Linked DNA regions of Homo sapiens. The protein of the gene in region 2 purifies or fractionates together with the protein of the main gene of each other region. This does not show direct contact. Each region holds a gene or a part of one and is shown on either strand. Other genes may lie near its edges. The genes, in order: STX12, STX6, NAPA and GOSR1.

What was found.
Region 1: the proteins of STX6 (region 2) and STX12 purify together in Homo sapiens (affinity purification with mass spectrometry; 6 studies listed by BioGRID and IntAct, with this or other methods). This does not show direct contact.
Region 3: the proteins of STX6 (region 2) and NAPA purify together in Homo sapiens (affinity purification with mass spectrometry; 4 studies listed by BioGRID and IntAct, with this or other methods). This does not show direct contact.
Region 4: the proteins of STX6 (region 2) and GOSR1 purify together in Homo sapiens (affinity purification with mass spectrometry; 3 studies listed by BioGRID and IntAct, with this or other methods). This does not show direct contact.

What each region holds. Positions count from the first base shown.
Region 1 is NC_000001.11:27,797,219-27,804,247, forward strand, and holds part of STX12 (syntaxin-12), read left to right. Parts: intron 1-4,459; coding exon 4,460-4,597; intron 4,598-7,029. UniProt on the Homo sapiens protein: SNARE promoting fusion of transport vesicles with target membranes. Together with SNARE STX6, promotes movement of vesicles from endosomes to the cell membrane, and may therefore function in the endocytic recycling pathway.
Region 2 is NC_000001.11:180,972,225-180,977,899, reverse strand, and holds the end of STX6 (syntaxin-6), read left to right. Parts: intron 1-1,253; coding exon 1,254-1,330; 3' UTR 1,331-5,175; downstream 5,176-5,675. UniProt on the Homo sapiens protein: SNARE promoting movement of transport vesicles to target membranes. Targets endosomes to the trans-Golgi network, and may therefore function in retrograde trafficking.
Region 3 is NC_000019.10:47,491,035-47,498,063, reverse strand, and holds part of NAPA (alpha-soluble NSF attachment protein), read left to right. Parts: intron 1-2,467; coding exon 2,468-2,514; intron 2,515-2,919; exon of another isoform or gene 2,920-3,036; intron 3,037-4,462; exon of another isoform or gene 4,463-4,570; coding exon 4,571-4,648; intron 4,649-4,889; coding exon 4,890-4,945; intron 4,946-5,018; coding exon 5,019-5,103; intron 5,104-5,944; coding exon 5,945-6,049; intron 6,050-7,029. UniProt on the Homo sapiens protein: Required for vesicular transport between the endoplasmic reticulum and the Golgi apparatus. Together with GNA12 promotes CDH5 localization to plasma membrane.
Region 4 is NC_000017.11:30,515,386-30,522,414, reverse strand, and holds part of GOSR1 (Golgi SNAP receptor complex member 1), read right to left. Parts: intron 2,477-7,029; coding exon 2,394-2,476; intron 162-2,393; coding exon 37-161; 3' UTR 1-36. UniProt on the Homo sapiens protein: Involved in transport from the ER to the Golgi apparatus as well as in intra-Golgi transport. It belongs to a super-family of proteins called t-SNAREs or soluble NSF (N-ethylmaleimide-sensitive factor) attachment protein receptor.

The DNA.
Region 1 (7,029 bases), about 150 Mb from region 2:
GCTAATTTTTGTATTATTAGCAGAGACAGGGTTTTGCCACGTTGGCCAGGTTGGTCTTGAATTCCTGACCTCAAGTGATCCGCCTGCCTCGGCCTTCCAAAGTTCTGGGATTGCAGGTGTGAGCTACCATGCCTGGCCTATTCACTTTTTTTCTGTTTCCTTTGATCCTCTTGCCTATCCCGTCTGCCCTGAAACTTTCTTCTTGCCATGATTCTCTTTCATTGTGTCCCCCAACTCTGGAGATCCCCAGGTTGAGTCAGCCTCCTTCCCGGACTTCATATCCTCCTAAGAGTGGGCATGCCCCAAGGTTGTGCCATTGATCCTCGAATTATTTCACTGTATGCTTTCTCCTTAGGAGTCACCTGCTTTTATGACCTCCCTTTCACCTTTATGATCATGACCTCAGATCTTTTTCCAATCTAACCCCTTCACCTCTAAGTGCGTGGCCCATATCTTCAATTCATGTTCTGACATCTCCTCCTGAAATAAACTACCTTCATATAAAACTTGTCTTATACTGAGTTTCTCATGTTTCTCCCAAACCCCTTAACTAAGTTCATTGACAATACTTAACATCACAGAAAAGTTTGTGCCTTTTGACCTAATATTCTCACTCATGCTAATTAGCCCTAAGGGGAAAAAAAATTCTGAAGGTAAACACACACACACACACACACACACACACACACAGAGTCTATATACTCTGGAGCCAAATTTCCTGGATTTAAATCCATCTTTGTCACTTACTGTGTGATCCTGGGCAAATTACATAGCCTCTGTGGTGCTTTGGTTTTCTGATGTGTAAAGTTGGGACTATAATAATGCCTAATTTATAGGTCATTGTATAGATAAATGAATTATTATGTAAAGCACTTACAGTAGTACTGGTACAATTTAAGCACTATATAAATATTAGCCATTACATTGGGGCTTACTTTATAATATTTAATAACTGTGAAAAATCTAGAAGGATTATTTACATAAAATTTAGGTCAACTTGATGGAATATATGTAAGCGATTAAAGATCATGGCCGGGCACAGTGGTTCACACCTGTAATCCCAGAACTTTGGGAGGCTGAGGCGGGTGGATTGCTTGAGTACAGGAGTTTGAGACCCAGCCCGGGCAACATCTCTACAAAAATTAGCCAGGCACGGTGGCTCATGCCTATAATCCCAGCACTTTGGGAGGCCGAGGTGGGCGGATCACCTGAGGTCAGGAGTTTGAGACCAGCCTGACCAACATGGCAAAACCCCATCTCTACTAAAAATACAAAAATTAGCCAGGCGTGATGGTGGCCACCTATAATCCCAACTACTCGGGAGACTGAGGCAGGAGAATTGCTTGAACCCAGGAGGCGGAGGTTGCAGTGAGCTGAGATTGTGCCATTGCACTCCAGCCGGGGTGACAGAGCGAGACTCCCTCTCAAAAAAAAAAAAAAAAAAAATCGCGCCACTGCACTGCAGCCTGGGTGACAGAGCGAGACTCCATCTCAAAAAAAGAAAAAAAAAAAAACTCGTGCCACTGCACTCCAGACTGGACGACAGAGCGAGACTCCGTCTCAAAAAAAAAAAAAAAAAAAAAAAATTAGCCAGGCATCGTGGTACACATCTGTAGTCCCAGCTACTCAGGTGGCTGAGGTGAGAGGATCATTTGAGTCTGGGAGGTTGGGGCTGCAGTGAGCTGAGATCACACCACTGCACCCCAGCTTGGGTGACAGAGCAAGACCCTGTCTCAAAAAAAAAAAAAACAAAAACATAATTGTGAAGAGTATGGTAACATGGAAAATGTTTATGATGTATTTAAAAGTTATGATAATATTTTTGCACGGTAAGGTTAGGGAATGATGTCCTCCCCGTTATTGTTATAATTTTGTTTATGCAAAAATAAAAATCTCAGAAGAAAAGGGTTGCTCATCTAAATTTGCTTTTAGTATTACCATCACTCTTCCAGGTTTGAAATTTCAGTCATTCTTGACTTTATCTCTCTTTCCCCACCACCAGTCAAAATGTTTCTTAAATTCATTTCTTTATGATTTTATTACTGATACTGTGTCCTCCTAACCTTAAACCTAGACTATTGAATTAGTGTTCTGTTTGACTTGTTTCTTTTTTCCATTCCACCTTTGTGTAAACGGTGACCCAGGTCTCATCACAGACTAATTTTTCTAAGTTACTATTTTGTACCCATGATGTTTCTTGCTCAAAAATCTTCATTGCTCTTTGTTCTTTAGAGGTTGAACCCCAAACTCATTAGCTTGTTTTTTTTTTTGTTTTTTTTTTTGAGACAGAACCTGGCTCTTTTGCTCAGTCTGGAGTGCAGTGGCGCGATCTCAGCTCACTGCAACCTCCACCTTCCAGGTTTAAGCAGTTCTCCTGCCTCAGCCTCCCAAGTGGCAAAGGACTACAGGCGCACGCCACCACGCCTGGCTAATTTTTTGTATTTTTAGTAGAGACATGGTTTCACCATGTTAGCCAGATGGTCTCCATCTCCTGGCCTCGTGATCTGCCTGCCTCATCCTCCCAATAGCTTGGCGTTTTGTTTTGTTTTTTGAGACGGAGTTTCACATGTGTTGCCCAGGCTGGAGTGCAATGGCACGATCTCAGCTCACTGCAACCTCCACCTCCTGGTTCAAGCAATTCTCCTGCCTCAGCCTCTCAAGTAGCTGGGATTACAGGTGCCTGCCACCATGTCTAGGTAATTTTTTCTATTTTTAGTAGTGATGGGGTTTCACCATGTTGGCCAGGACGGTCTTGAATAATTCCTGCCCTCAAGTGATCCACCCACCTTGCCTTCCAAAGTGCTGGGATTACAGGCATGCGCTACTGCGCCCGGCCTAGCTTGGCATTTAAAACCTGCTGTGGTTGGCCCCTTTCTTAACTTTCCAATTTTGTATTTTAGCTACTCTCATTACTAAACGTGTAGTTCCAACCAAACAGTCTGTCTAGAGATCCTCTTCAAGTTCTGCCACCATGCCTTTGCTCACACTATTCTCTTGCTTGGATTTGCCTTACCCCTTCTTTCTGCTTATTCATGCCTTCCTCTTACTTCACTGTCCACCTTCTCTTGAGGCCTTTCTTGGCCGCTTGAGTTCTTACTGATTATTCCTGCCCTCTGAACTCCTGTAGTACCAATTGGATATAGCAGTTATTTATAATAACTTTGTTACTTGTCTGTCTATATCCTTTATTTACAAATAGACAGCTGTTTGAGGTCAGGGGTGAGTTTTTACTTCTGTGTTCATAGAACAGGACAATGCTGTCAGTATGTGGTGTGTGTGTGTGTGTGTGTGTGTGTGTGTGTGTGTGTGTGTGTTTTGTTTTGTTTTTTCAGACAGAGTTTCACTCTATTGCTGAGGCTGGAGTACATGGCATGATTTCAACTCACTGCAGCCTCAACCTTCCAGGGTCAAATGATCCTCCTGCCCCAGCCTCTGAGTAGCTGATGTGTACCACCACGCCCGGCTAATTTTTTTATTTTTTGTAGAGATAGGATTTTGTCATGTTGCTCAGGCTGGTCTTGAACTCCTAGGCTCAAGTGATCCTCCTGCCTCAGCCTCCCAAAATACTAGGACTATAGGCATAAGCCACTGTGCTCAACCTCAGCATATGTTTTTTGAGACATAGAAGTAACAAGCTTAGTAGAGGTAGTCTGTAGATAAATGAAGTACTTACCAAGTCTCAAAGATTTTAAACCACTAAAAGCCTGTGAAATGCTTCTATAGTTTACAGGGAAGCTGTGAATTCAATATAGATGAATAGGGTTTTAACATTTTAGCTAAAACCCATCTCTGTTTGGATTCAACTGGAGTCCAGAGGTATTTATTCTCTTTTATATTCTCCAGGGCACCAAAATTCTGAATTGCAGTTCTTTGGAGATTACTTTAGAAGTTAAATACAGGCTGGGCACAGTGACTCACGCCTGTAATCCCAGCACTTTGGGAGGCCGAGGCGGGCAGATCACCTGAGGTGAGGAGTTCTACAATAGCCCGGCCAACATGGCGAAACCCCATCTGTACTAAAAATACAATAAAAAATTAGCCAGGTATGGTGGTGGGTGCCTGTAATCCCAGCTCCTCAGGAGGCTGAGGCACAAGAATCGCTTGAACACGGGCGGCAGAGGTTGGCAGTGAGCTGAGATCATGCCACTGCGCTCCAGCCTGGGCGACAGAGCAAGACTCCGTCTCAATAAAAAGAAAAAAAAAAAAAGAAGAAGAAGTTAAATGCAACCCAGTTCCAGGTTTGTCAGAATGAAAGAAGAAAAATTCTGACTTGGTCTATAGTATTAACCAGGGACTTGAGCTAGCAAAGAGCAAATTTATTAATTTAAAGAAGAGACTATTTCATAATAATTTTCCTAGTTGGAAATCTTTAAGGGGTATAATTTTACTTTTAAGGGAAATTAAAACCAAATGATTCTGGGTTAATATGAAATCTCAAGTTCTTGCTTGATTTCCTTAGCGCCAGCAGAGACTTCAGAAGGAACGCCTCATGAATGACTTCTCTGCAGCCTTAAACAATTTCCAGGCTGTGCAGAGAAGGGTATCTGAAAAGGAAAAGGAGAGTATTGCCAGAGCAAGAGCTGGATCTCGTCTTTCTGTAAGTTGATTCCCAAAAGAAGACCTTTGCAATATCAGAATGTTCTTTTCCAAGTTTGTGGGTTTTTTTCTTTTTCTCTTTGACCAATAAACATGTAAGTTAGCTGCTGTGAAAATGGCAGGTTGGTGTAACCTATGTAAAAAACATATATGCATGTGATCAAAGCCTAGAAAGGAATCTGAATGAAGGTTAAGAGATATAGGAGGAAGAACTATGTCTAATTTTCTTTTTCATTTTGATATATTGGTTTTAACGTTAAAAACTTGAAAATAAAAATAATGAATCTGTTTCCTGGAATATAACAGGCTAGTTTATTTGGACTAGCCCTCTGTTTTTGAAAAGGATTTTCAAATACTGGATTTTAAAAATCCAACTTCTCAAAAGTATCAAAGATTATGAAAATATTAAGGTAAAGCCTGAGAGGTCAGCAGAATACTGAAACTGCTTTTGCATTGAATGTCTTTACTGAAGGCAAACTTGAACTTCAGTTTTGATATCCTCATGGCATGGGGAGGATAAAAGTCAAAGCCAAAGGTCCATGCAAGAGAGAGAATATAAAAGAAGGTACAACTCAAATTAAACTGGGCCCTAAGAGACTATATCCTTAGAACATTAAGTCAAAAGTAAGCTCTTCTATCCCCCGGCAGATTACAGAAAGATTGCATTAGCACTGAACTGAGCAGATGGAGGAGGAGGGCAGGAGGGAGGAGAAATCTAGACAAGGTTACCACAAAGTAACCTTCTTCAGGCAGATTTTCTGCTCAAATTCATCCTACCTGAATGGTTCAGTGGTCCTGGACTGGGAGAGCCACCTATGTGTGGGATAGAAGCAAACACAAATTCCTTCTGTAGAAAGACACCTTTATCCTAGCCCTGAAATAATACTCTCAAATAATTTTTCTAGGGCAGTAAGTACCAGTCACTAAAAATAACCATGTGTGCAAAGAAACAAATTACTCTGAACAAGAATTAGTAGAAACAACAATGAAGTGAAATATACCTACAAAGACTTTTTATATTAGAATTATAAGACAACTATACTTATTGTGTTTAAAGACATAAAAGGCTGAAAACCTCTGCAGGAAACTACACAAAGATTTGAAAAAGTGTCAAAAGAATTTCTAAAATGGAAAGATATAATATAGAAATTTAAAAACTTAGTGGATGGGTGGTTTAACTAAAAAATTGGTTAGAATATATTATCCAGCATGTAGCATAGGGGGTTAAGAGGTTAAATACGGAAGAAAGATTATGAAAAATGGAGAATGGAGAGAAAAGATCTAACGTAGTTTTAACTGGAGTTATAGAGTGAGAATAGGGCAAACATAGAACAGAGGTGATATTTGAAGAAATAATGAGTGATAATATTCTAGAACTGATTAAAAACACTAGCCTGCAGTTTCAAGAAGCCTAACAAATCCCAAGCAGGATAAATAAAATCTCTAATCTAGATACATCAAAGACAAACTTCAGACCAGAGACAAAGAGAAAAATCATAAAGATAGCTAGAGAAACATTAGAATACCTTCAAAGATACAATAGTTAGATTGACAGTTGACTTCTCAACAACAGTGGAAGCCAGTAGAGTGCTATCTTGAATGTTGATGAAGGACAATAACTGCCTACCTAGGATTCTAAACCCAGTGAAAATATATGTCAGAATGAGGGCTAATTAAAGACATTTTCAATCAAAAGAGAGTTTTCTGTCAGCACATCTTATTGAAGGAAATTCTAAATAATGTATTTCAGATGGAAGGAAAGTGATCTCAGATGGAAAGTCTGAAAAGCAGAAAGAAATGAAGAACAAAAAAAGTGGTAAAGATGTGAAAAGACTAGTCACAGGGAGAAGACATTGCTATATATATTTAATAGCAAAGGACTAGCATTTAGAATATATAAAGAATTCGGCCAGGCGTGGTGGCTCACACCTGTAATCCCAGCACTTTGGGAGGCCAAGGTGGGCAGATCACGAGGTCAGGAGTTCAAGACCAGCCTGGCCAACATGGTGAAACCCTGTCTCTACTAAAAATACAAAATTAGCTGGGCGTGGTAGCGCGTGCCTGTAATCCCAGCTACTCTGGAGGCTGAGGCAGGAGAATCGCTTGAACCAGGGAGACAGAGGTTGCAGTGAGCTGAGATTGTGCCCCTGTGCTCCAGCCTGGGCGACACAACAAGATTGTATCTCAAAAAACAAAAAACAAAACAAAAAAAACCCCAGAATTCCCATGAATCAATATGAAAAAGAAAGATACAACTCAATAGAACAAAAGTTGTCAAACTTTTTAATCTCAGGAACCCATTACACTCTTAAAAATCATTAAATTCTGTGGCCGGGCGCAGTGGCTCATGCCTGTAATCCCAGCACTTTGGGAGGCCGAGGCGGGTGGATCACCTGAGGTCAGGAGTTCAAGACCAGCCTGGCCAACATGGAG
Region 2 (5,675 bases):
CTTTACTTATAATTTGGTGGCAGTTCTCTTGTCCAGTTCTAAGACTTTGATATCCATAATATTTAAAATAATTTTAAGTACATGTTTTGCCTTGTGGAGAGTTTAGCAGTTTATTTTCATAGATTGAGATCTTTTTGCAACGTGATTCTCAATAACTATAGTGTGCTAAAATCAGTGGGCTTTCAAAGAAACTTTAGTGAATCAATATGTCTTTATATTTCTATTTAAATGGAACTCTTATTCCTAGTGGTTGTACTGCATTTTCATACGCTAGTGAATTCTGTTATCAGTCGGGCCCTTTGTGGAAGATGCCAAAACTCATCAGTGGAAGGACTGCTCATTTTTTCTACATGTCTCCAAATTAAGGAAGCATCCTGATGTTGACAGCATCCTCTGTGCCCTAGGTTTGGGTATTGCACAGTGTGTGTATGACAGGGTTGTGTTGTTTAATTCTCACAACAGCCCTGCGGGGCAGCTGTTGTAGAGTTGGGACCACAGGATTGTGAGCTGCAGCAGGGCTCCCCCAGGGCCTGTCTGGGCCCTTCTGTCTCACAGGGCCTCCCTGCTCTCAGCCATTTGGATGGACTCTAGTCAAGTTGTTTCCTGTGCCTGCTGTTCCAAATTGTTGGTAGGGCAGAAAGTTTCAGAAAAAAAATTCCACTTTCATTTACAGAGGAGCTGTACAAGGTACTTTAACACAGTTACTAGTTAAGTAATCTTACTTGACTAGGTGTGGTGTGAAATTAATCATGCTGTCTCACTGGAGCTTGCTTTTTCAGCTGTATATTTCCTGAAGTGACCAGCAGTAGCTTTCATCTCCTTTCCCTCCTCCCGTTGTGCTCATTGAGAAAAGAATGTGATTATTGTTTAATTAAATGACTTGACTTTTATGGGAGATTAAAGCAGGCAGGCTTTGATCTGTAACACCATTGCCAACACCTTTTTTGAGGATATGCTAACTACCAGCAGAAAGCTAAGATCCGCAGATTTTAATTAAAGACTTGAGACACAAAGCATGTAATTATTACGAGACATTTTCAGGGGACTGGCAAAGTTGTGACTGCATGCGAAGTGCAGGCCAAGAACAGAGCAGCATTAGAGCATCAGGCACCTAGGCAGGTGTAAGATCATGGCCCCGTCATTTGCACGTTCTGCCCCTTTTCTGCTTCAAAGGGTGCCATAAATTCCATATAACTGTATCTTGGGGAATGTGGAGTCCCTGTGAGAGCTAATCCCCATGTCCTGCCTTCCAGATCGGCGCCAATGGTGTGCCATAGCCATCCTCTTTGCAGTCCTGTTGGTTGTGCTCATCCTCTTCTTAGTGCTGTGACGGCGGGGCCTCTGGGTGCGAGTTCCTCCTGCATATGAACCGAGGGGAGGAGGAGAAGCTGAGCACGTGTGACATTGCCGTCTACTCACATTCCTATCCTGGAAACATACTGCTGCACTGACTTTTCTCCGTGTGACCCCACAATTGACATGGCTCCTCCATCCCAGCGCTGGAAGGGCCAGTGGGAAGAGGAAATAGATGTCTGCACTCCTGGCTGCAGCTGGACAACAGAAGCCCCATGCCGCCTGTCCAGTTCGGAGGAGAACTAGCTGCTGCCTTGCCTTCCGGGACCTCGTTTGCTGAGGAGGGACTTACAGACTCCACTGGTGTTTTGCTGTTGCTCATTCCATGCATCTTTGGCAGCTCTTTTCTTCTGCTCAGACCCTTCCCCGTGCTCAGACAGTGCACCGCTGTCCCATCTAAAGAAACCTGTCAGGAATACGAGCTTCTGGGTATGTTTCGTTTCCCATTGCTGTAGCATTTCTTATCCCCTGAGAGCTGATGATTATTGAGGACAGAAGGCTCAGAAACAGTTTGTGACAGAAAATGCAGTGTTTCATTTTTCAGGGATAAATGCTAAGATAAAATTGCTTTTCCAGGTCATTTTTTTTTGTGGTAAGAATAACTAATGGAAAATAATGAAACACCCTGGGGTTTGGGGGTGCTAACAACTTGTGGCTTTAACTGACAGGAGCAATTAAAAAGAGCAAGAGGGTTCTGCATTGGCATAGCTTAGGGAAGGGTTAATGATGTCGCCACAGGTCAGCTCCTGATCCTTGCCGACTTGATGTTGCTGTACCAGGGCTTCCTCCCCAGAGGTGCAGCTTGCGTTTTGAGGGTGATTGCTACATATGTTGTTGCTAAACAGCTCAGTAACACACTTGAATGAATTTGGATACCAGATTGTCCTCATTACAGTTCTTTTACTCTTAGGGCACTCTACACTGGGGGTTGGGGTTGGGAGTGGTTAGTACATTTATTACATTTATTAAGAAACGTAATGACATAAAAGGTTAGCTCTGGGCCAGACTTCTCTTACTCTGTGGGTAATGGCAAGGATGTGTAGGTAAACTTGGTTCTTTTTTTTCCCTAAGATGACAGCTTGATTTTATCATCTGCAGTCAAATAACTGAGCCAATCCAAATTTAAATGATAGATGCTTTAATTGAGTTTAAGTAGCTGAAACTGCTGAGACACTAAACTTTAACCTTCTGATGACTTTTTAAAATGCCTCAAATGTGCACATGTATATAGGATATTTTTATAACTTCCCTGATGAATAATCTGATATTAAAGTAGTATTTGGACCCAGAGCCAGAACTCGGTGGTGGAGGCTGCTGGTCTCTCCTCACCACCTTCTTTTGCACTTGGAAAGAACAGCAACATCTGGATAGAGTTCTAGCTTTGACTTCTCATTTCCTTGTCTTTTTGGGTGCATTCCTCAGCACACTTTTTTTTTAAACCTTTTTGTTTTGTTTTGTTTGTATTTCATGTGGTTTTATTTGGGGGTTTTGGTTTTTTCACCCTTTTTTGTGATTTGCAATGATGTGCTTGCCCAGCTAACTTTTGAATTGCACTTTTTAATAAATATTCTTAACAATTTTTGAAGAAGGATATTTTATCTCATTTGAGATCATGGTAGGTTAAGAAAATATGCCTGTTGATGAAAGCTAAAAGCAAATTTATGAAACTAAAAGGGTGATTGACATCCATGTTTACACTCCGCTCTAATGTTTGATATATAAATAAGTTATTTTCAAATTAGGAAAAAACAGTGAGTATTACAAAGGGCTTCAGATGTTTAGAGTACTAGGTTATTTATGTTTTACAAAGTTTGAATCTTCTATAAACTAAGAAAGGGGATGATCCTTAGATTTGCATTAAAATATAGAAGTCTTTTAAAGTAAATGTGAACCTTGTCTAAGTACTGTAATCCACACAACACATTATAAGAAGCAAACCAGCATCTTAAGGAATTATAAAATTACCCTATTTAAAAGCCATGCTATTGTTCTGCTATTACCAGATTTATTGTGCCACACAAAAGGATCATGTGTGTCAGCAGGGGCCGTTTGGAACAAACCTAGTCATTAATGAGTAAGATACTCCTGTTAGTTCAGGGACCAAGTTTTATGACCCAGAGGCTTAATGATGTTTGGATATATTTCAAATCGGCGTGCTTACCTCACTGATTTAAATTATTTTCTAAATAGTGGCCATTGTAGACCTGACTCAGGCTGAAGCTAAATAGAGAACAATTTAGAAAGTTAACTAACAATACAGTGCATTCTACCCGTAGGGCCACCATGCCCTTCTGCCCCTGGCTGATTTGATCCTGTGTCTGATCCCATTGCACCCTGACTGGGCAGTCCCTACAGAACCAGTGTTAATTTGAAGGGCCTCCACTCAGGCTCCAAATGTGGCAGCCAAAGAGAACAATCCAGGGAACCTACATTTATTTTTAAGGACAAATATTTCCTCCTCAGTGGTCCTAATGTTCAGGGCTTTAGAGGGAACCCAGGTGGTCTCTTCACCCTGTGTCCTAGAATGGGAGAGTAAGTAGACAGTGGTGATAACCCCACACTGCTTATAAGTGCATCTTTATAGTATTTGGGGCTTTCCTACCCCTTTAGCCTTCTGTACCTAGTACCATATTCCAGTTTTAAAGAACTGGCAGAATGTGATGGATAACAGAGGAAGAGCTCAATTTATGTTTATTGGAAGAACATTTTACTTAAATGATTTGAGGGGTGGGAGGGAGTGAACTACTGAGTTTGCCAGAGTGAAAATCCATCTGAAAAACTCAGCTACCTTTAGTTTTTAGTCCTCATTTTTGGTCTTGTCTCTGCGGACTGTGAAGAATCACAATGCTCTATATGCCCTGGACTGTGTGGCAAATGCAGGTTGCAGCGTGTGTGTTACATGAGGATCTTCCACAATTTCAGAATGCACGCCAGAGCTGAAGGGGGAAACTTGGTAACTTGCCCATTATTCTCTGCTTTTAGCCAGAGTTAAACAGACTGATGGGTCTGGTAGCCAACAACTTGGCAACTTCCACTCCTTCTCACCTCGTGAGATTAAGGGCTGTGAAAAGAAATCTAGTCTAACTCCAACAGAAATCTGTCTCTGTTAAGTGTTTTACCTTCTGTAAGTAGAGATGGTAGAGCCAAGATTTTTCTTTTGGTAATTTCCCTGTCTATAAAGTGAGACCAAAGGGATATCTGTTCCCTGTTACCTTTTTGGAGAATTCATAACATTTGAAGATCAAAAAATTGAATGATAAATATGAATGGCTTTTCAATTCTGTGGACTTTGTACCATTTGGCTTCACCTTGTACTGCAAGATGAATTTGTAAACAAAACAAAATTGGACTGTCTGGAAAGCTAAAGTTCTGAAATATGGAATGTACTGCCTCTAATTTTTCTTTGTCTTCCTCTCACTGGCATTTTTTTCTCTCCCAGGTTTCTTAAGAATAATGTTTTTTAAAGGAGGCTTTTTGCCCATCAAGAATAAAAAGAAATAAAACCAAAGGGTTACCGGACTTAAGCCCCCGCAGTCACTGTGCGCCATCCCTGAGCAAAGTCCGCCCCTGAGGACAGTGCCCCTGCCCCAGTGACAGGCCTTACTCCTCCCAGGGCCTTTGCTTCTAATAGGGGGTGGTCTTTCTTTTCTTTCTCTCCTTTTTTTTTTTTTGATTAAAAAATAAAACCAAACCAGAATTTGCTGAAAGCAGGTACCTTTCAGTAGCTCCGATCAGAGTAACTCAGCTTAGAGATACTGTTACTCAGGACAACAGTATGTACAAAAGTCTCCGGAAAAGGAAAATAAAACAACCTGAAAAGAATTCAACTTGAAAAGGACTGAATTACTAGAATGATCATATAGCAGAATAACACAAAATGCAACAAAGAGCCACCCAAGCCTGAGGGTAAGACCTCTACTTCCCAGATTCTTGGATCATAGCCCATGACTTCTTGGGGCACAGAGGCTGGCTTCAGCATGAGGATCTCACCACTAACTGCATGTAACTCATCCATGCCTTGGGCAGAGGCTAAACACACGGAACAAGGCCACCAGACAGGTACACATGAACCCATGAGAGCGGTGCTCTCTGTAGAGTCTATAGACCTGGCAGGGACCATGGATAGCTTAGAGGTACTTACTCTGCAGCTGGTCACATAAGACCCTAGACTGGCCAGGCGCGGTGTCTCACACCTGTAATCCCAGCACTTTGGGAGGCCGAGGCGGGCAGATCACGAGGTCAGGAGATCGAGACCATCCTGGCTAACACGGTGAACCCCATCTCTACTAAAAATACAAAAAATTAGCTGGGCGTGGTGGCGG
Region 3 (7,029 bases), on a different chromosome or scaffold from region 2:
TGCCACCTTGGTGGCTCTGGGTGGGGAAGGGTGATGCTCATATGTGTTATTGGTTCCTCAGTTACCCAACCATGGCTGCTGCTCAGGGCAGACTCGGGCCAGCGAGGCCTCTTCCCAGGCCTGCCTGATAGTTGGGGGTGGGGGCAGTGTGTGTACCTGGGGCAGAGAAGCGACCTGGCCCCTGCTTGTCCCCCACTTCCTCCCCAGCTGCCATTTACTGGGTTTCTACTGTGTACCAGATGCTTGGCATCTTTTAACCCATTTGATTTCTTTGTGCATTCTGTGATTTGCCCCCATTTTACTAAGGAGGAGATGACCAAGTGTAACCAGGAAGGGCTTCAGAGACGCAGAAGTCAGGTTGGGCGTCGCTGGTAGGAGTGACTGCGGGGATGGGCGGTGGCCTGGGCCATAGCTCCCCAACTTGGGCTGTATTGCTCTGAGCCCCTTTCCAGCCCTCTGTGGGTGGGTACAGGAGGGGCCAGGCCACAGAACTGGGTGTTGCTCTGCCTGTCCGAGTGCACAAGGCCTGGTGACCTGAGATAAGAGTAGCAGTCATGAGTGTGTCAGAAGCTCGTCCAGGAGCCAGCTGTCCCAGGTGTCTGCTGGTGGCCCGCCGCTTTCCAGACATGGAGGGGACTTAACCCCGTGAGTCCATGTTGCTGCCTGGGGGGTAAGCTGTCTCCCTGCTGCTACTGCAAGGACTGTGCCATGCTGACGGCGGGTGCTCCAGAGCCAGTGCCAGCAGGCCCAGGTGGCAGCTGCAGATCTCACTGCTCACTGCGGAGCAGCAGCCTTTGCCGCCTCAGCCCACAGGGTGCCAGGTTGGTGTCCTGGGTGTTCCGGCCAGGAGAGTGAACCAGTGAGCAGCCCGGGGCCTCCATGTGGAGACTGCAGCCAGGTGGGGCGGGGCAAGGCGGGCCTCTCACCTCACTCCAGCTGCTGCTCTCCTCTGCAGCGTGGCCCGGCTTAGCCGTTGCTTCTGGGTCCGCCGATTACAGGATGTATGTGTCTTCAAACTGCCGGATTTAGGTTGTGTTCTCTCCCCTTCCTCCTCATCTGCCCCCTTTTTGCCACCGTTTCCACTGTCTGCTGCCACAGTCTCGGTCTGTCAGCCCTAGAACCTGGACTGAGTGCTGTACCTTCTCTCAGTCCCTTTTAGATCCCCAGAGGTCTTTCTGAATTGGACAAAACCTACAGACCCCACTCCCCAGAGGAGTGCTTATGGACCCCACTGTTTACATGTCAGAAGGAGGGGTTGGACTCCCTGAAAGCCCAGCCACAGACCTGAGACAAAGAGCCTCTGTCCAGATGCCTCCCCACGGAGGGAGTTTGGAGTCCCATCCAGACCGTGAGCCCCTTGAGAGGAGCCCAGCCCCGGCGCTTCTTGGTAGCACCCTCTTCTCAGGCGAACATGGCCTGGGTGACCATGGAGACCCCCACGGTGACCAGGAACTTTCAGATGCCCAGGCTGAAGCTCAGAGCCCATGCCCTGTGGCCTGTCCAAGCTCCCTGCCTTTCCCTCTCCCCAACCCAGGCCTCCCTCCCCACAACACCCCTGTCCTCCTGAGATGTGCTAAAATGGTGTTCTTAAAAAATACCCCCTGAGAGCTCATTTCTGTCTGCTAGAAAATGCCTCCCACTCATGCTTTTCTCTCTCCTCCAAATAACTTGTCAAAAAAAAGCCTTTCCCAAATTTAAAATCTTGCAAGAGATAGTACAACAAAGGTAGCCCAGTTCTTCCTCAGTGCCATCCTGGTGTGTTCAGGTTTTTTGGCAAAACCTTTGAGGAGCTGGTGGGTGGCAGGACTAGGTTAAAGGGACTGAGCAGAGGGCTCCCGACTGCTGAGCTACGAGGAAGAGGGGGCAGTGGAGAGCACACTGAGGGCTCAGTGTTGATGACATCCAGCCTCCTCGTGCCAGAGGTCCAGGTCCTCCTGGTGCAGGAGCAGAAGCTGCTCAGGATCCTGCAGAGATGGTGGCAGAGCCCAGGTAGAACCTGGCACCCTGTTGCCTCCAAGACCACCTCAGATGCTGGTTTGGCCGCCTCCCATGCCTCCTTCCCCTTTGCCAGCAGCTCAGTCCTTCAAGAGCAGGGCCTTGGCAGGTCTGTCTTAAAACACCGTGGGAGTCTGGCCATCATCCTGGCCTAGCACTGCTGTGCCCTGTCCCTGGGGTTGTGGGAAGCTGGTAGCATCCTGGCAGCCCGAGGAGAGAAGGGCTCCCCCAGAAGCATGTGCCCAGCAAGTCACAGTCTGCAGAGTCAGCCCTCTCACCAGATTTCCTGGGGCTCAGGGATTCCGTCCCCTTCTTCCCAGCCCCTTGAGAGTGTGTGGCAGCGCTGGCAGCTCTGAGCGCCTATTGATCTCTCTGCTGGCAGCCAGGTGCGCCTGCGTCCGCCTCCTCTCCTCAGCTTCTGCTGAAACGACTTCACTTTCTCATGTCTCCTCCCACCTCCCTTTCTCTCCAGAGGCCATTAACTGTTTGATGCGAGCAATCGAGATCTACACAGACATGGTAAGGGCTGCTTGCTTGTCCTGACACCCCCGGGTCCCACTGCATTGCCCCAGCCTTGCGTCCCCTCTTTCAGCACCCCCAGCACTGTTCTTATTCTGCGGCCAAACCACTTGGGGAGGGGGAAGTGGGAGCTGGGGGGATTAGGTCACCTGAGCTGGCCTGGGCTGGCTGGGTCTTCACCCAGCTCCCCACCAGCCTGACGGCCCCCTCACTCCACAGGCAGTCATGGTTTTCATTCATAGAACTTAGGTTATTGAGCTGGGCAGGGTGGCTCATGCCTGTAATCCTGGCATGTTGGGAGGCTGAGGTGGGAGGATCTTTTGGGCACAGGAGTTCGAGACCAGCCTGGGCAACATAGCAAGACCTCCTCTCTACAACAAATTAGCCTGGTGTAGTGGCATGCACCTGGGGTCCTAGTTCTTGGGAGGTTGAGGCAGGAAAATCGCTTGAGTCCAGGAAGTTGAGGCTGCAGTGAGCTGTGATCACACCACTGCACTCCAGCGTAGGCGACAAAACAAGACCCTGTCTCAAAACAAAAAAAGAAATTAGGTTACTGGAGAGTGTGTGTCCGGCACTTCCCCTTGCCCAGCCTTCCCGCAAGTGTCACATTTGATAAGCATCTTGCAGCAGGCCACAGGGATAGGCAGAGCCCACAGGAGGCTCAGCACCTGCCCTGCCCCCAGGGCGCGTTGCCAACGACAGATGCAGACCAGATGGGCAGCTGCCAACTGGAGCCAGAGTGAAGGGTCCCACCCAGGCCGGGGCTCCTGTCAGTGCTTTCTCTCTCTCTCTTTTTTTTTTTTTTTTTTTTTTTGAGACAGAGTTTCTCTCTCATCTAGGCTGGAGTTCAGTGGCGTGATCTCCACTCACTGCAACCTCTGCCTCCCAGGTTCAAGCGATTCTCGTGCCCTAGCCTCTCGAGTAGCTGGGATTACAGGCGTGTGCTACCATGCCTGGCTAATTTTTGTATTTTCAGTAGAGATGTGGTTTCACCATGTTGGCCAGGCTGGTCTCAGACTCCTGACCTCAAGTGATCCACCTGCCTTGGCCTCCCAAAGTGCTGGGATTGCAGGCATGAGCCACCGTGCCTGGCCAGCTCCTTTTTGCCTCTCCGCTTGCCCTGTCTGTCTCAGCCCTCCAACCCCAGGCAGGGACACGAGCCCTACCCCTTGCGTTCAGGGCAGTGCTGCAGGGATGACTGTGATTAGAACAATAATAGCAGCTGCCATTTATTAGGCCAGACACTGCAGGGTGGTTTAATCCACAGCCCTGTGAGGTTGGCATTATTGTCATCCCCGTTCCTTAGTGGAGGAGAGGGGCTCAGACAAGTGACATGATTTGCCCAGGGACATGTGGCTACAAGCAGGAGTCACTGAGACCCGAAACAAGGTCTGGCTGAGCCCAGGGCCTTGCCCTTTCCTACTGCCCTCAGCAAGGGGGTGGCGTTGGACCAGCCCCTGGTGCAGAGCAGTTAGGCAAGCGCCTGGACACTGGGTGGAGGCGGATGGAAGGTGCGAGGCCCCTTGGAACCTGAGGCCTCCCTGGGGAGCTCTGGGTGTGCCTGGGGGAGGCTGACAGATAGGTGTTGGCCTGGGGGCAGAGCTGGTACTCTTGGGCAGAGGTCTCAAGCCCTCCCTCCCATCCTGGTTTCTCCAGAGCCCTTTGCCAAGTGGCTCTGGACTGGTCCTTCCGCCTCTCTGGCTGTTATCAGAGGCTTCCTAAGGGCCAGGGCCTTGGCCAAGTGCTCGTGCTCACATTCTCTCTGGTGTCACACCATCTGTGCCCTCGTGGATGGGATGGAATTAGGCTAAGGCCCTGGAGTGGCTTGTCCAACATCACCCGCTCAGCCCAGCACGCATAGCCAGGCCTCTAGTGCTGGGGCCCTCCCTTCTCACTCCTGTGTTCCCCCACCTCTCGATCTTCTTCACACCTCAGGTCTTCTTCATACCTCCTCACAGGCGTGGCTGAGGGGTGGGAACTTGAAGGGTCATAGGTCAGCAGGCAGGCACGCAGGAGGTCATGAGTCGCAGGCAGCCCCTTCCTGTGTCCCCTCCAGGGCCGATTCACGATTGCGGCCAAGCACCACATCTCCATTGCTGAGATCTATGAGACAGAGTTGGTGGACATCGAGAAGGTGAGTGGCAGCAGGGCCCTGCATGGGCTGGCAGCCAGGACCAGTGCTGCTCTCTCTTCTTCCCACCAGGGGAGTCCTCTGGTGTCTGAGTGCCGAGAAGGGGGCATGGGGCGCCGGCAGAGCTTGGAGAATGGGGTCTGGCTGTGTCCCAGGCAGGCAGGGCGGAGGGTGTGGAAGCTTCACGGAGGCCTCCTCTCCCTTCCCTGCCCTCCCCTGGAACCCATCCCCCGTGTCTCCCCAGGCCATTGCCCACTACGAGCAGTCTGCAGACTACTACAAAGGCGAGGAGTCCAACAGGTAGCCCCCTTCCTGCCTGCCCCAGCCCCGCAGGGACCGCCACCACTTCCCCTCACTACTCCTCCCCACACAGCTCAGCCAACAAGTGTCTGCTGAAGGTGGCTGGTTACGCTGCGCTGCTGGAGCAGTATCAGAAGGCCATTGACATCTACGAACAGGTGGGGACAGGTGGGGATGGCGGCTTCCACCCTGCCCCCTCTCAGGGCCTGTGCCTCCTCCTAAGCCCCGGCACCTTGTTCTGGAACCACCCCTCCCCCGGCTCACCCTCTGCCTCTCCCCCGACATCCCTTGCCATGTCATCCCCCCACCCTGTCTTCAGCCTGGCTGAATGTTCTCCACCTACGACTCCATGCCGTGCCAGCACCGTCTCTCTCCCTGGCTGTGCCCCTCCCACACCCCTCGCAGAGCTTCCTGGAGGGGCCCAGAGTGAGGCTGGCTAAAGAACCCAGAGGGAGGGAATGGGAAGAAGTGCCAAGAGGCCCAGGGTGGCCGTGGGCACCCCACCCCATGGCCCGATGGTCCTCATCCACAGTGGGAGGGAGGGAGTGTCACATGGGGTCCCCCCAGCGTGCACGGAGCCCTGGGTGATGGCCGAGAAAAAGGCAGGCAGCTGGCCCCCTGGGAGAGAGGGGCGGGCGCCGCCTCTCATGTTCCCACCGCCTGCCGCCGCTCTGCCCACCGCCATGCCAGCCTCCCGTTGGTCCTGACAGCCAGGCTGCCTCCTTCCCACTGTCTCAGGCTCTCAGAAGGCCCACGAACACCTGGCTACAGCCTCCACCCCCACCCAGCCACCATCACACCCTGATCTTGGTCGCTCACGCACTGGCCGCTGACCTCTCCAAGCTGGTCCCTGGCTCCCTGCCCTTGGGGTCCTGGGTTAACAGGGCCTCACCTCGGGACATGAACCAGCTCCCAGCTGGCCCCCCAGTGCCTGGCAGTGGCTCTGGCCCTCTGGCTGCTTGCCCTGAGCTCACCAGTGCCACTTCTCCATGGCTACAGGTGGGGACCAATGCCATGGACAGCCCCCTCCTCAAGTACAGCGCCAAAGACTACTTCTTCAAGGCGGCCCTCTGCCACTTCTGCATCGACATGCTCAACGCCAAGGTAGCACACCCCACGCCCGCAGGACCACCGCACCAGGCCACCATGTGCTTATCTCCAGGCCAGGTCCCGTTGCCCCCGAAGAGGGACGTGCTCCTCCCTCACGTCTGGCCCCTGCCAGCCAGCCTTTGGATGAGAAGTGTGGTTCTCACAGCTGTGTTTCTGTGCTGGCATCACCTGCCCACCCAGCCCTGGAGGCTTTTGCGGGTCCAGCTCCTGCCTCACTTAGTGCTCTTTCCTTCATGGGTGCACTTTTTGAATCCTCACTGCACCCCATTAAAGTCAGCACCATTGTCACCGCGTCTTATGGGTGAAGATGGTGAGGCTGGGACGAGAGTCCCTTGTTTGAGGCCACATGACTAGGGACCTGCAGCCCCAGTGTTCCAGATCTTTGTGACTCCTGCTGTCGTGGCTTTAGCTGTAGCTCACACATGCCCACCTATTTTCAGGACACTTGGCAAAAGAGGGGCCAAAGAGGGCAGTGGGAGGGGGCGTGGCCAGCGGGAAGGAGCTGGAGGGTTGGCGCTAGATTTTGCTTGGCCGGAGTTTTTTTACCATTGCCTGGCAGAAGCACGGAGTCCAGGATTTCCTGGTGTCCCTGGCTCACGGCCTGGGGTGGTGGCCCCACACACCCCACACACACACACCCCACAGAGCCCTGCCCTGCTGTGGGCACCGGTGGTGGGCAAAAGCTTGGGCTTTGTCAGACCAGGTTCCCATTCCCACCCCATGTCTCACCGTGCCCTGGGCAGGTCACTGCCCCTCTCTGGATCTGTTTCCTCACTTTGAAAAGGGGGCTCACCGTCATTTGACCCTCTCAGGGTCCTCAAGAAGCACCAGCCCCAGGCCTGGCATGGAGGATGTGCTCATTTGTCCCCTGCCCCAGCTGAGCCAGGTGGGAGGAGGCAGTGGGTGCCTATCTGGGGAACCTTCCCCCTCCACCCACCTCTCCCTGCAGCCATCTCTGCAGCCAGGCTGGTGCT
Region 4 (7,029 bases), on a different chromosome or scaffold from region 2:
AAGCGGTGGCTGTCAAGAGTCCCTGAAGATGTCCCATCAATGGAACGCATACAGCAGCAACAGGATGGTACAGATCCCAATAACACCCCCTAGGATGAGCGAGTCCCGCCGCTTCCTCAGGTTGATCCTCTGGATCAGGCTGTTTACAGCAGGAAAACGATCTTTGGGAAATCTTTATTAAGGTCATATTTGGAAGAAGCCTCTCTGGCGAAAAGTCGTAGGAATCACAAAAATAGAGATCAGTGGTGTCTAGAAACAGTGATGAAAGGCATGGGGAAGAAACTCACACCAAGGGAATCTTTAGCAGATGCAGTTGCCCAAACCGGGAACGCGCTGCGGCTCAAGGCCCCTAACCAATACACATCTCCCAGTCTTGTGTGTAACACAAATAAGAATAGTAATAGAGAGAGAGGGAGAAGAAAAGGACGATGACAGTTCCCAAGCACTGAGGGCTTACTGCCAGGCTTCAGGTCAGGGTGGGAGCCAGCGTGGCCAGGAATGGAGGAACTCTGGCAGGGAGGCACAGGCATAGCCAGCTCCCATCGCCACCACCACCCATTTCCCTCCCTTTCCTCATTTTCCTTCTCTTTTCCTCTTCTCTCAGGAGACTGGGGAGTTCTGCCTGAGAGTTTGAAGAAATACCTGATCTTTTCCCGCCTTAGATTCAGGCAATTCATGGGAACCAACTCTAAGGTCTATATAATCAGACACTGGTGAATTATTAATATTTTCAAAGTTACTTCGCAGCAGAAGGCAGATACAGGAGGAAAGTGGACTAAACTTTAGCCCTGACCCACACCCATTTTTTTTGATTTTTTTTTTTTTTGAACACATTCTTTTGGAGTAATTGTAAAATTCCCATGTGACTTATTTGTATGAGGCGCTATGCTAGGTTCCAGTATACTACTTTGCCTTAAGGGAACTTAGTGTTGGGCTGGGCAGGGTGGCTCACACCTATAATCCCAGCACTTTGGGAGGCCAAGGCTGAAGGACTGCTTGAGCCTAGGAGTTTGAGACTCGCCTGGGCAACATGGTGAAACCCCATCTCTACAAAACATACAAAAATTAGCCGGGCATGGTGGCACGTGTCTGTAGTCCCAGCTACTCAGAAGGCTGAGGCGGGAGGACTGCATGAACCTGAGAGGCTGGAGGTTGCAGTGAGCTGAGATCGTGCCACTGTACTCCAGCCTGGATGGTAACAGGGTGAGACTCTGTCTTAAAAAAAAAAAAAAAAAAAAAAAAAAAAAGAGAGAGAGAACTTATGGGAGAGATGCTTACAGAGCAGTAGAGAAGAGGTCACAAAGAAGAGTGGTGGTAAATTCTAATGAACAATTGAGAAAGGCTTTAGTGTTTTAAATCATCAGCTATCTGACTCACACTTCTATTTCAAAGTTTCAAAAGTTTCACTAAATACAAACTCTTAAATTCACTGATCAGCTTTTCTGGCTGGCAATTGAGTTCATAGTTTAGTAAAATGAGATAATGTATATAACAGCACTCTGTAAATTTTATAGCCCTATCTAAAATGTGATTTTAGACATGTGGTTTTATACTTAGGGTGACAAGGCAAGAACAAAATTCACAGTGGACTGGAGAATAACAGCACACATCAGGAGAGTCTTTTCCTTAGGCAAAGACATATCAAACTAAAAGTGAACTCAAATTATCTAGGACTACAAGATACTCAGCTTTTGAAAATTCTAGGTTCCTCCCCCTTTGGCAGTTGGGGAGGAAAGCTTTTTGCCTAGAAGGCTTGTCTTTTCAGAGGTTCGCTGAATGAAATGACTCAGAGTGCCAGGCTTTTCTGGTTCCCTAGTGGGTTTCTGGGAAGTATTAATAATCCTAATTTAAAACAGAAAACTGAAACATTTTAAAGTAGAGGTTACAACAAACAAGTGGAGAATGTATCCTAGAATTCAGCCTGTGCATAGAGTTACAAACTCCATCAGTAGCTATAGCTCATCTGCACGGGTGGCTGTCTCCTTCCTTCCCCCTTCCAAGCATCTGCCACTGACTTATCTCTAAATGGGAAAAACAACAAAGGCATATAATTTATCATGTTTAGGTAAGAATAATGTATAGTGTGGAGTTCTAACATGAATTTAAAAGCTTTCTAAAATGTAGAAGAAATTGGTGGATAATTTTTAAATTCACATTTATAATTTTTTTCTTCTACATCTAGTAGTAAGAAACTTCTGAGGTGCAGTCTTTTAGGAATGGTACTAAAGAGCATAAACTTTCACAAAGTAGGAATGCACAGTATATTCATATTATGCAATTACTGATGGGCTCTACTGCTACTGATGATGGCAACCTGCCCCCTATAAAAGCACACACAGACACTTCTCCCCTCTACCCTCAAAACACAGACTGCGAACATTCAAAAAGGATACTGGCCAAAGTGTTCATTTTGCTGTGAATTGACTTCAACATTCCTCTCTGTGAAGTCATATTTTCTTTTGTTGCCATAGCAATGCTGCAAGGGGAAAAAAAGATGACAAATCACCATTTAAGATTATCCTGCCTGGAACCATCATGCCTTTAAAAGTGAAAGAAAACTACAGTGAGCAACATCATCTTAGAAAGCACTGTGCCAGAAAATAAGGGGAAAAAATCACTTCCGAAGCCACTTTACCACTGCGCTTTTTCCAAATGACTCCACTGTTCTCTGATATCTTTTTATACAAGGCAGTAAGCCACTTCCTATGTTTGCTTCAAAATAACAAACAAAATAAGGCATAAACAGACAAATCACATATTACAAAAGCTTCTTAAAATTTAAAGTTTAAAAACTTTAAAAAGTTTAAAAAGAGTTTAAAAAGAAGCCAGCTACTAAAATATCTTTAATCAGGAAAAACTGTTGAAAGGGAATTATAATTATAAAAATAGAAAAGAAATATAAAATATCATAAAATGTGAATACACAACCAGCCCTTAATTTATGAAGAGATTATGTTCCAAAATTCTACTTGAGAACCAACTAGGCATGCATGCAACATTATGCTGGGTTTCCATGATGGCTGACAAAGGTCACAGACTCATTAAACGTGGCTAAAACAGCTGGGTGTGGTGGCTCACGTCTGTAATCCCAGCACCGAATTTGGAAGACCGAGGTGGGAGGATCACTTGAGCCCAAAAGTTCAAGACCATCCTGGGCAATGTGGTGAAATCCCAACTCTACCAAAATAAAAAATTAGCTAGACATGTGTGCCTGTAGTCCCAGCTACTCGGGAGGCTGAGGTGAGAGGATCAATTGAGCCCAGGAGGGGGGGGCTACAGCGAGCTGTGATGGAGCCACTGCACTCTAGCCTGAATAATGGAGCGAGACCCTGTCTCAAAAAAAAGAAAAGATTAAAGAGAAAAGAGAAAGTCACTTTTGGTCGAACACAATCTCTTCCCTGTGACTACCTTGATGTCCTGTTTAAAAGATCTCTTGAGTTAATATCCTTTTTTTGGGGGGGGTTGGGGGTTGGGGGACAGGGTCCTGCTCCGTCACCCAGGCTGGAGCCCAGTGGTGTGACTGTGGCTATTGCAGCCTTGACTCCCTGGGCTCAAGCAATCCTCCCACCTCAGCCTCCTGAGTAGCTGGGACTACAGGCATGTGCCATCATGCCTGGCTAATTTTTTTTTTCTAATTTTTAAATTATTTCTAGAGATGGGGTCTCCCTATGTTGCCCAGGCTGGTCTCAAACTCCTGGGCTCAAGCCATCCTCCTACCTCCGCCTCCCAAAGTGCTGGAGTTATAGGTGTGAGCCACCAAGCTTGGCCCTAAGTTAGTATCATTTTGCTATCACTTCCAGGATTATTCATTTCCCATAGTCTTATCTCTCTGGACATTAGAGCCCTAGAGGGCAGGGTCAGTATCCACTTTGATATGTAACACTCAGAGGAGTGCTTTGCATGTTGACATTATAAATAGCAACAGAAAATGAAATGCTGTTGAGCAATTTTGAAAATATCTATTTTTTTTTTTTTTTAAATCAAGAGATTGAGATTTGGGGAAGATGATGGTGAGAGTATAAATTCCTGACTTGACCTTTGGTCCATTTCCTCCATGGAGTAGCACAAGAATAAAAGCAGACACACTAAGGAGGGTCCATCTGAGGCCCCAAGTTCCCTTGAGATCTCCAGGGAAGAAAGCCAGGTAGAGGGCTATACTCTCTGAAGTGAAGAGAGAACCAGGGAACTGACAGCAGGGAAGCTTAGATTTTTCTTCAAGCTTGAGGCAAAGACCTAGGGCTTCCTTGCTTCCTGAGGAACCCAGACAGTGGAAGACTATGGATCTGCATACACAGGGGTTGCAGTGAAATTGCTCCCAGGCACTGAAGCTGGGAAAGGACTGCTACATGCAGCCAGAAAGATGACAAGCAGAGAGCCGATAGTCTTGTAGCTGGTGTGATGCCCAGCCCCTAAGGGAAGAGCCCAGTGATGGATGCATCACTGCCTGATATGCCATTGCTTAAGAGGCTCTCATAGCTGGATCTATCTGGGAGCTGAGTGAACACATTTTTGGCCAGGTAAGGTCTCACAGAGTAAACCACCATGTATCTTATTGAAGGGAAATGCTAGAAGGAATATTCTAAACAAATGACACATGAATCAAAACTTGAATTTCAAGATTTGAGATGGCAAAAGAGAAACAAAAGTGTGTAAGGAGGTATATACAGGTTGAACATCCCTAATCTGAAAATCAGAAATCCCCAAGACTTCTGGTCCCAAGTATTTTGGATAAGCAACATTCAATCTGTAAAAGAATATTTGTTGAAGCATTTTTGGAATAGTAAAAAATGAACAACAACAGCAAAAAGACCAAAAAAAAAAAATCCCCCAAAACTGGAAGTAACATTTGAATGGTATAATAGATTATGATATAACCATACTTTGGTTATTAAAAAGGATGAGTTAGTATTATTTCTATTAACACGAAGGGGTGTTTATAACATATTGAGTGATTAAAGCAAGCTACGGAATGTGCAGAATATCAATGCTGTAATATTTTCAGAAACAAACACCCTTGGGGATGTTTGTATGACAGTGAAAAAGTTGTATATCAGTAAGATACACAATTGTCACTTAACACAAGTTACTTCAGAGGTTAAGAATGGAGGGGTACTACCAGGAGATTGACTTTTCCTTTATCCATTTTAGTATTAGTTAAGTTGTTACAATAAGAACATTTTGATAATATACAAATGTACTTCGATAATATATAAATATCTAATAAAGAAAAATGAAAAGAACATTAGAAAAATCCCACCTGAGTGATTAAGAAATGTTAACAACATCTGAAGCTACACACACACACAAAATTAACATGGACATGCTAGGATTTAGATCACTTTCAACTGAAATCACAGGCAGTGATTACATAGTATTTGGGTATTTAAAAAAATGAGTTAGGGCTAGGCGCGGTGGCTCATGCCTGTAATCCCAGCACTTTGGGAAGCCAAGGCAGGTGGATCACTTGAGGCCAAGGAGTTCAAGACCAGCCTGGCCAACATGGTGAAACCTCTTCTCTACTAAAAATACAAAAATTAGCCAGGCGTGGTGGTGAGCGCCTGTAATCCCAGCTACTGGGAGGCTGAGGGTGAAGAATCACTTGAAGCCCAGGAGACAGAGGTTGCAGTGAGCTGAGATCGCGCCACTGCACTCCAGCTTGGGTGACAACACAAGACGCAGTCTCAAACAAAACAAAACAAAGTTAGTATTTCTATTAACTTGAAGGGATGTTTATAACATATTGAGTGATTAAAGCAAGCCACAGAATGTATAGAATATGAATCCTCTAATAATTACAGAAACAAACATCTTTGGGGATGTCTGTATGACAGTGAAAAAGGTATCAGAAGGATACACAACTGTCAGTTAACACAAGTTGCTTCAGGGGTTAAGAATGGAGGGGTACTACCAGGAGACTGACTTTTTCTTTTTCTTTTTTTTTGTTTGAGACGGAGTCTTGCTCTGTCACCCAGGCTGGAGTGCAGTGGCGCGATCTTGGCTCACTGCAACCTCCGCCTCCCAGGTTCATGCCATTCTCCTGCCTCAGCCTCCTGAGTAGCTGGGACTACAGGCGCCTGCCACCACGCCCAGCTAATTTTTTGTATTTTTAGTAGAGACGGGGTTTCACCGTGTTAGCCAGGATGGTCTCGAACTCCTGCCCTCGTGATCCGCCCGCCTCAGCCTCCCAAAGTGCTGGGATTACAGGCGTGAGCCACCGCGCCCGGCTGACTTTTTCTTTATCCGTTTTAGTATTATTTAAGTTGTTACAATAAGAACACTGTACTTGTATAATATACAATATACAAGTGTCTAATAAAAGAAAAATGAAAACATTAGAAAAATTCCACTTGATTAAGAAACGTTAAATAACATTTGAAGCTACACACACAATTAACATGGACACACTAGGATTTGGATCACTTTCAACTGAAATCACAGGCAATATCTGCAAATTTAGAAAATGAAAAGTCCTAGAGAATATTACAGTTCTTCCAGGGTCCTGATTTCCTATGTGTTTTAATGCTGACAATCCCATCTTCCCAATACTTTTAGGCCTATTCTAGAAAAATATCTGTTCATGTGGAGATATTATGGTCTGGTCTTTTGAAATGACATTTCAGAATAAAGAAATGTAACTGGGTAAAACTAAAACAAACAAAAAAATACATTAGCAGCTCCAAATCCACCACTGTGATGCACCTCAATAAAATTATGAGTCAAGCAATGATTTTAAAAAGTTTTCCACAGATCTCAGAAATGCTCAAGAATGGAAGGGATCACTCTCTCTGAGGGCAGAACTGTGGAGTAGGGTTAAAAATGGAGATTTGTAGAAATTTGTACAAGGAGTTGCCATAACCCAAAATTGCCCTTCCTAACGCATGCAGCTAGGTGGCTGCCCCTAGTCCAGTAGAAGACCTAGCTCAGGAGAAGAGACATAGAGGTCTGGCAATTTGAAGTCCCCAGTGAAACAGCCAGGTCCGCCTGATCACGCATGGTGAGGCCTAACACTCAACAAGTGTCACCACCCTA